Linked DNA regions of Homo sapiens: region 1 is linked to region 2. Evidence: fine-mapped expression QTL. A gene starts in region 2. The other region holds a variant in brackets. All regions are shown on one strand. Distances are between the middles of the regions.

Region 1 (8,320 bases), 37 kb after region 2:
GCAGCCTGGCTCAGGGCTCGGTGCCTCTTGGCCCGGGCCTCAGCTTTCCGGATGTTGACCAGGACTCTGTGGTACTCCTCGGGCAACAGCCTTTTCACCAGCTCAAATCTGGAGGTGGCAAGGAAGGGCTGGTGAGAGGCACTGGCCAGACAGCACGACCCAGATGTAGTGTCCCTGGTAGGACTGGAAATCCTCGGCCCCTCGCTTGCCCTACCCCCGCCCCTGCTCAGTGCACAGACCCAAACTTGCGGATGAACTTGGTGAACAGGTTCCGAAGCTTCATGCGGAAGTGCCGCCGCATGTCATCTGAAAGCTTCCCAATGGCTTCCATCTGCCGGACAGAGCACCAGGCTTTCAGGGAGGCGAGCCTTCCATGCTGCGCCCCCTTTACTGCTGTCCAGCCCAGGGACGCAGCATGATCAAGCCCAGCTGAGGGGAGGGTTAGCGCGGCCCTGCTCCTGGCCCACACCCTGGCCCAGTCATGCTTCCCTCGGGTGGGCAGGCCCCATCTTTCCCCTGCACCCTCCTTCAGGACACAGGCCTGAGCACCCTCGCAGGATGAGAGCTTTAGTCTTCTCAACAGCACTTGGTACTTGACATATATCCTCTCCTTGAATCCTTGGACTACCCCTGAGATACATGCTATCACCCCCTATTTATAGAAGAGGACACGGCGGCACAGAGGATAAAGTGTTTGCTAAATGGCCATAGAGGTGGGAGTTCAGCCCAGACTCATCTAATGCTGCGGCTCCCGCTTTGCCCCTAGCACCCCAAGATTTCTCTTGGTCCCCTATGTCCCTTCCATCTCACTGCATTCTGCTCTGGCTGGATTCCTCTTAAGCCTTCATCTGGCCCAGTTTGGGTTACATGTGCAGGTGGCAGATCTTCTTATCTCCAGTGACTCCCAAACCGGCTAGGGGATAGGGTCCACGTCTACTCCTTTTTTTTGAGATGGAGTCTCGCTCTGTTGCCCAGGCTGGAGTGCAATGGCACGATCTCAGCTCACTGCAACCTCCACCTCCTGGGTTCAAGCAATTCTCCTGCCTCAGCTTCCTGAATAGCTGGGATTACAGGTGCCTGCTATCACGCCTGGCTAATTTTTGTATTTTTAGTACAGACAGGGTTTTACCATACTGGCCAGGCTGGTCTTGAACTCCCAACCTCAGGCGATCCGCCCACCTTGGCCTCCCAAAGTACTGGGATTACAGGTGTGAGCCACTGTGCCTGGCTTTTTTTTTTTTTTTTTTGAGACAGAGTCTTGCTCTGTCACCCTGGCTGGAGTGCAATGGCATGGTCTCGGATCACTGCAACCTCCGCCTCCCAGGTTCAAGCAATTCTCACACCTCAGCCACATGAACAGCTGGGACTACAGGCGCGCACCACCATGCCTGGCTAATTTTTGTATTTTTTAGTAGAGATGGGGCTTCACCATGTTGGCCAGGCTGGTCTCGAATTCCTGACCTCAAGTGATCCACCCACCTTGGCATCCCAAAGTGCTAGGAATATAGGTGTGAGCCACCGCTCCTGGCCTCCCCAACCACTCTTGGAAGGGCTTCTATAAATCCCTTTTTTTTGAGACAGAGTCTTGCTCTGTTACCCAGGCTGGAGTGTAGTGGTGCAATCTTGGCTCACTGCAACATCCGCCTCCCAGGTTCAAGTGATTCTCCTGCCTCAGCCTCCCGAGTAGCTGGGATTGCAGGCACCTGCCACCTCGCCCAGCTAATTTTTGTATTTTTAGTAGAGATGGGGTTTCACCATGTTGGCCAGGCTGGTCTCAAACTCCTGAACTCAAGTGATCTGCCTGCCTTGGCCTCCCAAAGTGGTGGGGTTACAGGTGTGAGCCACTGCAGCCGGCCAGGGCTTGTATAAATTCGAATAACTCCATGATGGATCACTGCTCTAGCTGTTCTCCCCACCTTTGGTCCCTAGTAGGCTGCAGGCTCCGAGGGCAGCGGGAGGGCATGCTGATTCTCATCTGTCCCTTCCTATCTTGAACCCAAGGCCAGACCCAAAGAAAATATGCAAGAGGGACCCAGAGGTCTGATGTGACTCAAGCCAGTCACACATGGGAAACTGAGGCAGTAGGTACAGTGCACAGCTTGGCTGGAAGCCTACGCCAGCCTGGGCAAGGCTTCTCTTGGGCAGGAGAGGGCCAGGGACCCTATACCAAGGGGCTCTTCAGATCCTTCTGCAGCCCAGCAGGGGACCCAAAGGAATGGCCTCTAACCAGCAAGGTCAAAATGCAAGATGGGAAAAAAAAAAAGGCAAGATGAGGGGGTCCTGTGGAGGGAGAGCCCAGCGTCTGAGTCCCATGATCTGGAAAATCTCTGGCCCAGTTTCTCCATCTGTAAAATGAGGAGTGGCCCTGCCCATGGGCCTTTGCCCTGAAGAGCCCCTGTTGCTTTCCATGTAGGGCTCTGGGGTGAAGAAAGCCACCTGGGCAGTGTGCCCCCTCCTCGCCTCCACCTGACAGGCATTCCCCTATGGTCCCTTTTAGGGCTCCTTAATGACCTCTGGCTACAAAAAAAATAGTTTGAAACTTGCTGGCCTCGAAGCTTGCCAGGTCCATGCCAACAGCTCAGAGGCCACCCTGCTACCTGCTAAGGGGAACGGGGACACTCACCACCAGCTGCACATGTTTGGCCAGGTGCGCCACGTCCATGACAGTCACTGCCACCTTGATGAAGCCCAGTGCAGACTTGACCACGTCACGGGTGCGGGAGGCCAGAAGCAGGCACACATTCTCCAGCAGCTGCTCCACTGTACTGGTCCCCATCAGACCTGTGGCAGTGAGGGGGTCACTGTCTAAGACACCCAGGACCCCACTCAGACCCAAACCTTCCCCACTGGAAAACAGCCACTCAAGTGTCAGTAAAAGCTGACATTGAGAGCCTTTCCGTATGCCCGGGATGGTTCCAATCACGCTCCATGGAGTGGTCTTGGGTCCTTTCGTCACCCTGAGGTGGGTGCTATTTCTTGCTTCCATTTTAGAGATAAGAAACTGAGGTGCTAAGAGGCTAATCAAGCTGTTCTAGGTCTCATGTGGTTGCCAAGAGGCAGGACTAGGACTAAAATCCAGGCATCAGCCCTAACCACCTCCTAACCACTCTGACAATGGGATGCAGGGCCACTGGACTGCACAGTCACACGTGGGGACAGACCTGAGGAAGGTGCCTTGGCATAGCCGCAAGGGCGGGAGGCAGCGACCCGCAGGAAGGGAGACAGGGAGGCAAACTGGGCTGGGTGTGGCTTTTCTTACTTCCTCCAGGCACCTTTTCCCAGTTCCAGGAGCCACTTTATCCTGACCTTTTGGGCATCTTCCTAATCTGAGGGCTTCTCAGGCCTTCTAGGAAATAAGCATTTACCTTTAAACTCGAAAAGGAGGTGGGTCAGGGCCAGGATGCTGCAGCTGACCATGGTCACCGCGCCCACCAGGCCAGGGTAGATCAGGACGAGGTAGCACTGCAGGGCCTCTGGGGACAGAGACCAACGTGGGTCAAGCAGGAAGGACCCACCAGGTAGGGGGGCTGAGGGCCAGAGAGGAGCAGCCTGCCCAGGGCCAGGGCACAGAGCTCTCCCCACCTTTTTTGAGGGGTGCTTCCCCCCACCCAGTCTATGAGCAGAGTGTCCACCCCCAGCCCCCTGGGCCTCACCTTCCTGGTTCGAGCCAAACCTTAGGAAAGCATGGCCCATCTCCACGAGCAGTGCAAAAGCGTTCTTCCGTGCGCCCACCGACACCTCCTTGGTGCACAGGATCACCTGGCCAAGACAACTCCATCAGCATCTGCTCCCTGAGCCATCTGCCCGGGAAGCGAATCGAGTCCTCCCACTCCCATCACTGCCCTCCCTGGATCCTGAGGCCCTTAAGAGCCACATTCCAGGGACCCCCCTCTAAAACACACCCGCACACTCACCTCTGGGATGAGGGCAGTGATGAACTCCTTGTGTTCAGCTGAGAGCTTCCTCACGATGTGTAGGAGGCACTTCAAACGGGGCTGTGGGCAAAGGGCTACCAGTCAGGACCCCTCAATGCTACCTCCACCCAACAAGCCTCAACAGTGGCTCCTTTCCTGGTGTTGCCCAGGCTCCCTCGGCAGAGCGGGTGGCCCTAGAGCCCTCACCCTCTTGGCGGGTGAGGAGGTGCTCCGCAGCGAGTCCAGCAGTGTCTTCTTCAGGTCCTCCAGGTGGCTCTGCACGAAGAGGGCCCCGGGGCCCTGAGGACTGGCACACACCTCCTCCAGCACTCGGTAGGCCTTCTTCTGCACCCCGTGGGCCTTGCTCTGGCAGACAGGAACCGGTGAGGGAGGCCTGGGGCTCACTCCCTGTCC[A/G]ATGCTATCCACGGAGCATCCCCCAGCACTGGAGGGATTCTGAGCAGGGGTCCGTGGGGGCTCATGTGGCTTGACAGAGGACCAGTGGAATGTGGACAGCGAGTGGCTAACTCCTGGGCGAGGCACAGGGGTTGGGGGTGTGTGCCGTGGGGCCCACCAATCCACTCCACTCACCCAGCTCTGGACAGTGCTCACTCCAGTGGCCTGAGCTCATGGTGCCTGGCACGCGCCAAGGCCTGCACATCTGCTGCTCTTTCTAGCCGGAGCACTCTTCTCTCTCCTTCCAAGACTGACAACTCCTTGCTCCTCCAAACCAGCTCTCTGTCACACTCCCCCAACCCCCAACGCCGGACACCTTTCCTGAGGTGACGTGGCCTGGCCCTGGATTTCCATGTCCACCTGCAGTGCTGCCCCAGAGCACTTCTCACACTGTTAGGTAACTGCTACTAAACTGTGGCAATGGGGGCAGCTTTCAGGGGGTCACTGCTGGGCTGAGATCTGCAGGGTTGCTGGCCACAGCAGAGGGCATTTCAAGCTGAGGACCCAAACCCTGCAAAGGCACAGACAGGGCCTGTTATATCAGGGAGGCTTAAGGCAGCTGAAGGAGGCTGCAGCAGAAGTAGAGAGTGGACTGGGTGGGATAAAGCTCAGGCCGGTCTGGGATGGGCCTGGGGAGTGAGCCAGGCAAAGGAGCATGGCCTTGGTTCTACAAGAGTCACTCAGCACGCAAGGCCTAAGCACAGCTGTGCATTTCAGTCCCTTTGGGACCTGCAAGACAGATGGGCTACACAGGACACAAAGAGAAGCCACTGCAGGAGAAAGCAGACAGGGACCTGATCTCGGGAAGCAGCAAGGGACAAAGACATGAAGACAGGCCCCACCTTCCCACAGCCCATCTGCCCCCAAGCGTGGCTGTGTGGCGCTCCTGGCCCCCGAGGCTCACCTCTAGGTAGGGCCGGATGGTGGAGTATAGCTTACTGATGGCAGCTTCGTCAGCACACGGAGCCAAGGCCACGACCAGGTCCAGGACAGACAATCTGCTCGGGGCAGGAGGACAAGGAGAGGGATGGGGAGCTGGAGAAGGGCGCAGACTACCAGTGTTCTTACGTCTACTGGGTATGGGGAGGTGGGAGAAGTCAGGGTGAGGACAAGGGGCTTGAAGGAGCTCATGAACAATAATAATAGCTAGTACCTAACTGAGCATTCATGATGTACCAGTCACCGTTCCTGGTGTTTTACACCTGCTAACTCCTTCAATCCTCATAGCAACCTTGTTGCAAGAACTATTATCGTGCCCATTTTACAGATGAGGCCTTAGAGGCAGAATGGATAAGTAATTTGTCCAAGGTCACACAGCCCATGAGTGACGGGGCTGGGATCAGAACCTGGGCAGTGTATCTCCTGGGTCCTTGTTCCTCCCTACCAGACTAAATGGCCTCTCCAGGAAGAAGGAACTAGTCAGCACAGCCTCTCAGCACAGCCTGGAGAGTTAATACTTCAAGGCTTCCTTAAATAATGCAAGAGGGAACCCACAGTGCTTCTGCCAGATGCACCCTCCAGCTCCCTGGGCTGCTCCAGCTCAAGTGGGAGGCCCTGAGCATGTTACCTGGTAAAGTCAGAGCTGGCAGGGTCGAGCACCTTCTCACTGGCTTTTTCCAGGAGACTGTTCACCAACTTGTGGCCCCGAGGGAATGAGGAGAAGAGAGTCATTGGGGAGGAGCGAAAGAAAGCAGCAATGGCAGCAGTCCCAGAGCGGCCTCCCCATCAGCCCCCAGCCCTGCCCAAGCCATGACTGCTGGTATGTGCTCCAAAACACAGAGACCCACGTGAGCCCTGGTGGGTAGGGTCTCGGCCTCTCTGACCCTGCCCACCTGAGAGCTCCCCTCCTCCCTCCTTCCCTCCCTTCCGTGGCTCACCTGAGTGTCAGTGATGGTGAGGTAAGTTCTGATGGTTTCCAGCACAGCCCGGCGAGGGGCTGGAGTGTCCCCGGCTGCCACGGGCTGCCCATACAGGTTGAAGAGGATCGGCAGAAAGTTCTTGGCAAAGCGACTCACTTCAGCACGGTCAGCCTCTGGTAAAAGGATCAAAGTTTGCACTAAAGGCACAGGAGCTGACTGTGCCTCAGTGGCTGCTGGGGCTGTGGCCCAGAGGCCCTCTCTTGGGGGAGCTGGCAGGACTTGGAATCCATGGGTTTGGGGCTCTCTGTGGCAGAAGCTGAGCCAGGGCATGGAGAGCCTGGTGCCCCAGTGGCCCATGGTCCTCGATGGCTCCAACCCCAGGGAGCCAGCAAAGTTATCCCCTGGGGTCTGCAGCAGAAGCAGCAAAGGATGAGCTCCAGAGGTGAGTTTCTGTGGCTCTGCCTGGCAAGGAGTGTAGCAAGCCAGGGGATGGGGCCAGGGACCTGTGTCATCCTCCCCAGCCCCCACTCCCACAGCCCACACGTACCTGCCTGGCAGCCCTTGGTGATGAGGGTGCGCAGGGCCTGGCACACGGTGACCCTCAGGTCTGGACGCTCGCTGATGGCCATGCCCAGCGTCCGTGCCAGCCCTTTGAAGGAGATGGCCACATCTGTAGGCCTTGTGCAGAACCCAGGCAGGAGTGTCCACATCTGGAGAAGGAGGGGACAATAAAGGAAGGTGACACGCAGCCACCTGTGCCCCTGTGTGCTTCTCCCCACGCCCTCCCCCAGCTGACCCTTACCTGCCACTGGAGTGTGTCGTAGATCTTAGATTCCACTGTGCTGCCTGCCTGAGCCAGGTCCATGGCTGCAGTGTGACAGAGGGACAGAGTGTGAGCCCAGCACCCTCCTGGCCAACAGCCTTATTTACCAAACCAAACCAAAAGCCCAATGATGAGGACAGGAATATGGGTGACTTCCCCCCATCTCCATGAATTAAATCATACTTGTTCATTCTAAAATACTCAAATGAACCTATAATAAACAGAAAGCAAACGTCTCTCCATACTCTTACTCCCCCAGAGATAGCCTCTGTTTCTTGTTACTTTTTTATACTTCTTTAAACACATGCCCAATTTTTTTTGTTTGTTTGTTTTGTTTGAGACAGGGTCTCACTTTGTGGCCTAGGCTGGAATACAGTGGCGCAATCTGGGCTCACTGCAGCCTTGACCTCCCAGGCTCACGCGATCCTCCTACCTCAGCCTCCCAAGAAGCAGACTACAGGCGTGCATGCCACCACACCCACCTAACTTTTTGTAGACGTAGGGTTTCACCATGTTGCCCAGACTGGTCTCGAATTCCTAAGTTTGAGCGATCCATGTGCCTCGGCCTCCCAAAGTGCTGGGATTACAGGTGTGCAACACTGCACCCAGCCACATGCCCACTTTGTAAAACATAAACAGGGGCTGGGTGCAGTGGCTCACACCTGTAATCCCAGCACTTTGGGAGGCTGAGGCGGGCAGATCATGAGGTCAGGAGATTGAGACCATCCTGGCTAACATGGTGAAACCCCGTCTCTACTAAAAATACAAAAAATTAGCCGGGAGTGGTGGCAGGCACCTGTAGTCCCAGCTACTCGGGAGGCTGAGGCAGGAGAATGGAGTGAACCCGGGAGGTGGAGCTTGCAGTGAGCCGAGATCGTGCTATTGCACAACAGCCTGGGTGACGGAGCGAGACTCTGTCTCAAAAAAAAAAAAAAAAAACCATAGGGAGGAATATACTATATATATAGCATTCTGTAACCTTGTTTACTTGACAATAAAGCTGGTAACATTTACTGAGCAAGTACTATGTGGTAGTCTGTAATGAGCACTTCACATGACTTTTTCATTTAATCCTCACAAAACTTGCCCATTTTAAGATGAGGAGCAGACCCTGGGAAATTAAACAAAACCTGCCCCAAGCCACGAACTGTGGAGCGGCGGAGTTGGGATATAAACCGTGTCTGTTCGACTCACCATCTGCTAAACTTGTCTGTCCCTACCTAGTGGTTTCTTTCTTTCTTTATAATGCCTACATCATATCCCAAAGTGGG
Region 2 (8,320 bases):
CCACACACACACACATACCATTTCTCATTATTTCCCTATTGCTCTGGTCCTTCTAGGCTAGAGACTTGCAGAATGTTATCAGGGAAACATGGGCAATGGCCCCTTCAGAAGACGAAGCTGTCTCAACTCTGTGACCATCCACTACAAGGGGCTAGGGATATCCTAGCCAAAATCATTCCTGAGCTAAGAGTACTAGGAATGGGCTATCCCAAGCTGCAACACCTTGGAAATGCCCATTGCCTCGTAGACAGAGACACTTCCCCAGGCCCAGGCCCTCCACAGGCTTTGCAAATGGCTGGATCAGTAGCAAGAGTTGGGGTGAGAAGAGCGTACTGTGTGTAGGCTCAGACAGGTGACAAGGGTGTGTGAGAAGAGCATTGTGTGTAGGCTCAGACAGGGGGCAAGAGGACCAACTTAAGTGCCCTGAGTTCTGATTCTGCTCTACCACCAATAATTCCTTTCACCATTGTAAAAAGCAAAGTAGGGCCAGGCACGGTGGCTCACACCTGTAATCCCAGCACTTTGGGAGGCCAAGACAGGTGGATCACTTGAGGTTAGCAATTTGAGACCAGCCAGGGCAACACGGTGAAACCTCATCTCTGCTAAAAATACAAAAGTTAGCTGGGAGTGGTGGCGGGCACCTGTAATCCCAGCTACTTGGGAGGCTGAGGCAGGAGAATTGCTTGAACCCAGGAGGTGGAGGCTGCAGTGAGCCAAGATCATGCCACTGCACTCCAGCCTGGGGACAGAGCAAGACCACGTCTTAAAAAAAAAAAAATGCCAGGTGCCGTGGCTCATGCCTGTAATTCCAGCACTTTGGGAGGTCAAGGTAGGCGGATCACAAGGTCAGATCGAGACCATCCTGGCCAACATGGTAAAACCCCGTCTCTACTAAATATACAAAAATTAGCTGGGTGTGGTGGCATGCTCCTGTAGTCCCAGTTACTCGGGAGGCTGAGGCAGGAGAATCACTTGAACCCAGGAGAGGGAGGCTGCAGTGAGCTGAGATCACACCACTGCACTCTAGCCAGGCGACAGAGCGAGATTCCATCTCAAAAAAAAAAAAATCTTGTAAAAGGTGCCAACCAGGGTGCCTGCCCTAACAGGGATCAGCTCCATCTCTACCTAGGAAGTAGAGAAACACTCAGATCTTGTAGGTCTTTTCCCATTGTCTGTAGTCCTTATCTATAAGATGGAAAAATAGTGCCTACCTCGTGGCACATAAAGCCATGTGGTAGTACCAAGAATGAGCAGCTATCACTTTTTGAGCAATGAAGTCTCCCCTTCAAGTCCTCATTTAACCCTTCCAACTCCCCTATTAAGTACTATTGTTTTACAAATCACAAGGGAAAAACTCAGAGTCTTGACTTGCCCACCATGACACAGCTGGTGAGCAGAAAGGGCTGAGGCAACTGAGCATCAGCCTTCCTCTGCAGCCCCAGCCTCGGGAGTGTGCTGAGCAGGAGAGGTTCCCCGGGGGCTGGGTTAGTAGAGCTGGGCAAGGAAGGGGCAAGGCAGGGGCCAGGTGTGGTGGCTCACGCCTTTAATCCCAGCACCTTGGGAGGCCGAGGAGGGCAGATCACTTGAGCTCGAGTTCAAGACCAGCCTGGGCAACACAGTGAGAACCCATCTCTACTAAAAATATAAAAAATTAGCCTGGCATGGTGGTATGAGCCTGTAGTCCCAGCTACTCAGGAGGTTGAGGTGAGAGGACTGTTTGAGCCCAGGAGGTTGAGGCTGCAGTGAGCCAAGATCGTGCCACTGCACTCCAACCTGGGTTACAGAGTAAGACACCATCTCAAAATAATAAAATTAAATTAAAAAGAGAAAAGGGCAAGGCAGGAACTAGGAAGGGATTCAGCAAGGGCTCTATGCCTGGGAAGACAGGGCAGAGAGAGAATGAGGAGAGGAGGAGGGCTACTTCGGTCAAATCTAACCCCTGAGTGCTCAAACCAAGCCATTTTACAACTACCAAATACACTGCTGTAAAACCCTGTTTTTCTCTCCCAAGGCCATAGCTCAAGACTAGGTCAGTCTCAAAGGGGAAAGCAGGCTGGCTTCGCCTGTGCCCTCCCCATTTTGCACAAAAACGTCCAGATGAAAACCCACCTCCCTCCACCACAGCACCTCTTTGCTCTCCAGCCCAGAAAGCATTTCTAGAATACATTGTCTTTCCACAAAGGGAGTGGAAGCCCATCTTGCAGCTTCTAAAAACCTGGACTCAATTTTCTGATCTTGTGGAATAAAAACTTAGAAGCACTCAAGTCCTGTGGCTCTACTAGGATTCTGTGCCCATCAGCATTGGCCCAAACCATTTGTCCAGGTCCCCCCCCCCCGGTTTAGCCCAAGTGCCCTCTTTATTAAGGACATCCCCATATGCTTTTCTGCCCCTCTCCCACCTTCCACCAAAATGCCAAACCGTGCTCCAAAACAAAAGCCAAATTTATTCAGCAGACATTTTAATTATGAAATCCTATAAATCAGGACCACCACAATTTCAGACACTCCGTTGCGAAGTGTACATCAATAGCTACATCTGGAGGATGAACAAGCCATTGAATCTTTTAAAAATTGGTTTAGCTACCTTAAAGTTTGGGGGTGGCACCTTACAAAAGCGCCGTCAAGTTTCATACAGCCAGCGGCTTCTTCTCTGGGAGAGTCACATTTTAAAACCGGTTTCAGACACAAAAGAAGGGCTGGCACGGGAGGAGGAAATAAATTGTGAGGGTGAGGAGCCGCCGAGGCCGAGGCCCATGACTCCATGGAGGGCCAGAAGAGAGCAGAAAAACGTCCAGGGTCTCTCATGCATTCCTATAGACACCAGAAAGGGTGGAATAAGAAAGCTCAGCTGGGAGGACAAGAAAGAGACTCAAGAGATCGTTTATGACTGTTTCTGAGAAAGCTCCTGGCATGGCCATGAGTGGCCTTCCGGGAGTCCTGTAAAAAGGAAAGCACAGAAAACAGGAAAGAACTCTCCCTACACGTCCCTCTCTGCCTGTTTGTGTCCTCGGGAGACTCCAAGCGGTGGTAAAGCACCAACAGGGCTCTTCTTGGAGCAAGAGAAAGAAAAGACTCCGGGGTGAGTAAGCTCTCCCAGGAACCCCACAGCAAACCGTGACCTTGAACACAGATGGCAAGGTCAAGTCATTTACAAGTCCACATTCAAATCCAAATCTCCCACCTGCAAAATTCTTCACCTCTCTCCAGTCCCTTAATTGGAGTTCACATCTCCCACCTTCACCAGCCACCGAATCGGTGGGAAAAAGGGGCAATGCCAAGCCACCCACCACCAAACTTTTACATTCTTCTCCCCTCTGGAATTTCTTTGCACAGCAATTGTAGCACCACTTACTAAGCTCCTCCACCAGAAAATAAGAAAATGTATGCGTGTCGTTAGTTTTCAAGTATTGTTATAAAGCCATCGCGATTCCTACCCCTGAGCCCTCCTTAAACAATCCAAGCTCACGACGCCCCCAAGGGCTAAGTGAGGTACAAGTCGATGCAAGTAGCTGCCATAGTTCTCCCAGTTTATCCCAGGTCCTTGGGCTTGGATGGCCCGGGAAATTCTCATGCCCCACGGAAGCACCCTGGCGCATACATTTCTCCACGCTTAAGTTTTCTCCGACGGCCTCGCCGCGGCTGGTAACTTCTCTGGTTGAGATCTCTCCCCACGCGCCTCCCCGCAGCCAAAGTGGTCGCTCCCAGGCTGGCGACGTCGGCTTCAGCTCAGAGTTAGTAGGAACTGGACGCTGTTGGGTCTACGCAGCGGCCTCCACTTCCTCCTCCAGGAGGCCTGCGTCAGAGCAAGGAGCCTGAGGGCTGCAGGGCAATGCGGTCAGGTCCGCTGCGGCCTCCCCCGGGCCCAGGGGCGCTTGCGGGGCCCGTGGCTGCAACCGCGGCGACGGCTCGTTGGAGTCTCCGCACGGCTTCCTTGATGAGGTTTCCCGAGAGCACGAGCTGCTGGAGGAGCCGATGCGGGTCGTCGTCGCCGGCGCGTGCCCCGGCTTGGGTCCATCGGCGCTGCTGCAAGCGGCGGGAGGTGACCGCGTCCCTGAGCCATCCTCGCCGGCACGGCCCCGGCAGCGCGCTGGGGCCTGCGGCGACCTCCGCCACGCAGTAGGGCGCAGCGCGTCCGCGCACGCGGCCGCGGTCCCCTAGGGCGCAGCGCAGGGCCCCAGAGGGCGCCGGGCCCACCGTCTCAGCCGAAGCGGGCGGCAGCAGCAGCGGCACCGCCGGGGGCCGGGCCTTGTCCGCCGGCACCGCCGCAGCCAGGGGCCCCGGGGCCCGCAGCGGCACCCCCGGGGGCGCGCACGGCGAGGCCGGGCTGTCCTGCGCCGCGTCCAGCTGCAGCGTCTCGCCGATCTGGGCCACCAGCCGGTCCACCTCGCCCGAGCTGCCCAGCGTCACCGACTGCTGCAGCAGGAGGAAGCTGTCGTCCTCCTCTTCCTCCCCCTCCGCCTCCTCGCCGGCTTCCTCTTCCTCCTCCCTCCGGCACGGCATGGCCCCCCGTCCTGGCACCCGGAGCTGTGCGGGCTTCGCTGGGGGCTTGGTTGCCCGCGGGCGCGGAGCTGCGGGCGAAGCCGGAGCAGGGGCGGACGCGGAAGCCGGAGCCCGCCAGGCACTCGAGCCACGCGCCTGCAGCCGCTGGAGCCGGAATCCTGCCGGCTCGGGTTGATTTGTAAACAATGGGTGACGTCGCGCCGGGCCCTACCACCGCACCGGGGCGGGGGTGACGCGCGAGCAGGCACGGGGGCAAAGGGCGGCGCGGGCGGTGACCGAAGCCGTCCCGCGCCTGTGTTCGTTGTCCCTCCAGGAGGGGGTCCGGGGCGTGGGGACTGATTTCCGACCTCCCGGGCCCAACGAGCCGTGCTGAAACGTGGCGCCTCGGAGGAGGCTGAGGTTGGTTTCTCCCACGCACGGACACACCCACACCCACTCCGGGCCCGCCTCCTGGGCCGCGGCCTCCCTCCCCACGTGTCGGCCGCGCCTAAGCCCGCCCGACTCCCGCCCCGCGCACCCGCAGTTCCCGGCCCTGGTCGTGGGGGAGGGGCGGGCCGCCGCGGGTCCGGCTTCGACGAGGCGGGGCGGGGAAAGGCGGAGGGAATTGGGAGTGAAGAGGCGGCACGTTACTTATTTACTTATTTATTATTTAGAAAAGGTCTCTGTCGCCCAGGCTGAAGTATAGTGGCGCGAACACGGCTGACTGCAGCCTCGAACTCTGGCTTAAGTAATCATCCCACTTTAAGCCTCCGGAGCAGCTGGGACCACAGGCGCGGCCACCACGCCTGGCTAATTAAAAAAATTTTTTTTGTAGAGACGGTGGTGGGGGGGGGGGGTCTCACTATATTGCCCAGGCTGGTCTCGAACTCTTGGGCTCAAGGAGTCCTCGCTCCTCGGCCTCCGAAAGTGTTGGGGTTACTGGCGTCAGCCGCCGCGCCCGGCCTAAGAGGGGACGCTTTGAAGCAGAGCAGAATCGCTCTGAGGTGAGGTCCCAGAGGCTTTCCCTCCCGCAGTCTTCAAGCCCCCGGACATATCATGAGAATAGGACTCACCGCCGCTCGGCTAAAGAAGGGTCTTTTTTTTTTTTTAAGGTTCAAATAGAAATATAGGGGATTGGCCAGGAGCGGTGGGTGGCTCATGCCTGTGATCCCAACACTTTGGGAGGCCGAGGCGGGCGGATCACCTGAGGTCAGGAGTTCCAGACCAGTCTGGCCAACATGGTGAAACCCCATCTCTGCTAAAAATACAAAAATTAGCCGGGCGTGGTGGCGGGCGCCTGTAATCCCAGCTACTCGGGAGACTGAGGCAGGAGAATGGTTTGAACCCTGGAGGCGGAGGTTGCAGTGAGCCGAGATCACGCCACTGCACTCCAGCCTGGGCAACAAAGCGAGACTCCGTCTCAAAAAAAAAAAGAAAAATATAAGGGATGGAAAAAATCTCTCATGGTTCACATTTAAATTTTTTTCCTTTTTAGCCTTTGTTCTATGAAAGTGTAGTATACAAACACATGCATACAGTGTTACACACTTTTCCACTTTGCCTTACATCATAAACGTTTTTCGTGTTATTGCATGCACTTTGAAAACATTTTAATGATTACATAAGTTTCCATCAAGTGCCTATGTTTTTAACATTTGCCTAATTTCACCATCGTTAAGTGTGTAACTAACATTTTTGTGCGCGACACTTTAAGATATTGATGATTCTTTCCTTAGGGCATATTCCCAGGAGTGGAATTTTAAGTCACAGTAGTTGGGTATTTTAAGGTTTACTGATAAATGTTCAGGAAGTGTCTTTCCAAGAGTTAGGTAAATGTACTCTACCATCATTAATGCTTGAGCATACATCATTACACCTTCACTAGTATTTGAGTATTATTGAATTTTTTTTTTTTTGCGGATTATATAGGGAAATTTTCTCCCTTCAGTTTGCATATCTTTGATTTCAGTTAGGTAGAGCAGTTTTCTAAATGTTTGTTAACAAACTGTACTTCCTTTCTTATGAATTGTCTATTTCCTAATAAGATTTTCCTAGGGAGTGTTTCTTACGTATTTGCATGACTCCTTTACATACCAAATGTTAACCCTTTTCATATTTTGCCGCAAATACGTCTCCAGGCTTTTGTTGGCTCTGTACAGTCATTTTTTCCCCCACTAAAACCAAATTTTCATGTAGGCAAATTTTAAAATCTCTTTGAAATTTCTAACACGATGCTAAATTTGGAGTCTCCTTGCTGCCAGAAAGTTATTAAATATTCCATTCTATTTTCTTTAGATTTTTCAAATGCCTTGATTTTTTTTTCAAATCCATCTGGGATTAATGTTGGTCTTTGTTTCAAGGAGATGACATGAAATTAATTTTTTCCTGGAGAGCTTGCCAGCCAAAGGTGTGTTTCTTCACTAGGACAGAGGTGTGAGGGTAGCATAAACACAAGCTGTCTGGTGAGTTTCCAGTTGCTGGTTAAGCTGGTGGTTGTGAGGAGTGGGTGGGGCTGGGAATGTTTTGATCAGTCTGTTGTGTGAAGTCAAAAGAACCCAGAACAGGTTGTACAAAGACCTAGATCCAAGTCTCATTCCTGCCACATCCTGGGTGTGGGACTCCAGGCAAATCAGTTTACAAGTGTTTTCACTTGTAAATAGGAGAAATAATCCCTGCCTGGCCTCCCTCTGAGGATTGTTTTCAGGATCAAATAAGATAATGGGAACGGGTGTTGTCAGGCATTACACAAATGTAGGATTAGGTCCAGCGGTTTACTAACAGAGGTCTGGCTCAATTCCAGCGAGTCCCCCCTGGGGAGCATTTAACATAATAATGTTGAAGATCCCCCCCATGCAGCCCACTAGGTGAAACGTACCCTGAGGGTATTACTTCTGTGCACTTGCCAGGTTTCTTAAATTCTGCCTCAGGTCTACCCTGACCTGGGATTGTGTAGGGCTTTACTGAAGTCAGCCCGGAGGCTCCCATGCCCCACAGTGAGTCTCCGCAACTAGTTCTGCAGGTTTGAGTGATGGAGACTTTCCCAGTGGGCAGCCTCCCACCTCCATCTCCCGAGGGCTGTTCACACACTTTACTGATGAGGACTGGAAGCCATTCCCCCCGGAGAGACTGATTCTCATTTTCATTCCGATGGTACTTACTGGAGAATTTCGAGAGGAATGAAAATTAGGGGAGGGCTTACGGATTTCAGTAGAGTTAAAATGGTAATGTTTTCCTCCTTTCTGTATGATGATGCCTGGCTGTAAGTAGAGAAAAGCAGTTTTATGCTCCATTGATTTTAAACATTAATGGGTCTGGTTTAACTATTGTCTCTCACCCAGCATCCCTGGAAGTTGTTTTTGTTTTCCTGTCAGGGTAATTCCAATAGTGTTCTTCGTACTATAGGAAATGGAGCTTTGAGATGGCATTCTTTAAAAAAAAAAAATCTTCCCTTTGTAATGTTGCTTTTGTGTGAAGATTGCTATGTAAATATGCTGGGACTTGGATATTATACTATTCATTACAGAGATGAATTCATTACAGAAGACCAGCTCCATTTTCTGGGGGCACCTCTCTGGAGAGCTCTGAGAGAGAGAAGTGCTGTGCTGGACCAGTGGGAGGCAGAGAAATGCCCTGGATTAGGAAGCAAAATACAAGATGCTAGAAAGACTCAGATGCAATTAAAAGTAATGAGACGGTATCAAAAAGGGAAGCGATGAGAACTTGTGAGCCCAGCACACTGGCTCCCTGCCTGGAAAGACACACTCTCGGACAGCATTCACAATCGCCCAGGGAAGAACAGAATTCAAGGGTTTTCTGCATTCACTTAGATTGCGTTGAAATT

Evidence for each region. PIP is the estimated chance that this variant, and not a neighbour inherited with it, causes the effect.
Region 1: its variant is fine-mapped to the expression of FRAT2 in whole blood (TOPMed, PIP 0.95).

The regions. Positions count from the first base shown.
Region 1 is chr10:97,366,802-97,375,121 of GRCh38, forward strand. It overlaps RRP12 (ribosomal RNA processing 12 homolog), which reads right to left. Exons shown (of 34, transcript NM_015179.4): 16 at 7,029-7,093; 17 at 6,774-6,936; 18 at 6,245-6,399; 19 at 5,935-6,002; 20 at 5,272-5,365; 21 at 4,122-4,280; 22 at 3,915-3,995; 23 at 3,654-3,759; 24 at 3,366-3,473; 25 at 2,624-2,781; 26 at 240-331; 27 at 1-108. Among named protein-coding and RNA genes, the nearest start is that of RRP12, 30 kb to the right of the region's middle. The variant A/G (reference allele first, on the strand shown) is at 4,329.
Region 2 is chr10:97,330,073-97,338,392 of GRCh38, forward strand. It overlaps FRAT2 (FRAT regulator of Wnt signaling pathway 2), which reads right to left and starts at 4,657. Exons shown (of 1, transcript NM_012083.3): 1 at 2,425-4,657. The coding sequence starts at 4,500. The coding sequence ends at 3,799. LOC105378448 (a long non-coding RNA gene) reads left to right here and starts at 4,774. Exons shown (of 2, transcript NR_188201.1): 1 at 4,774-4,899. RefSeq lists enhancers at 3,368-4,275, 6,813-7,331 and silencers at 3,826-3,875, 3,886-4,015, 4,356-4,505, 4,596-4,745, 4,876-5,225.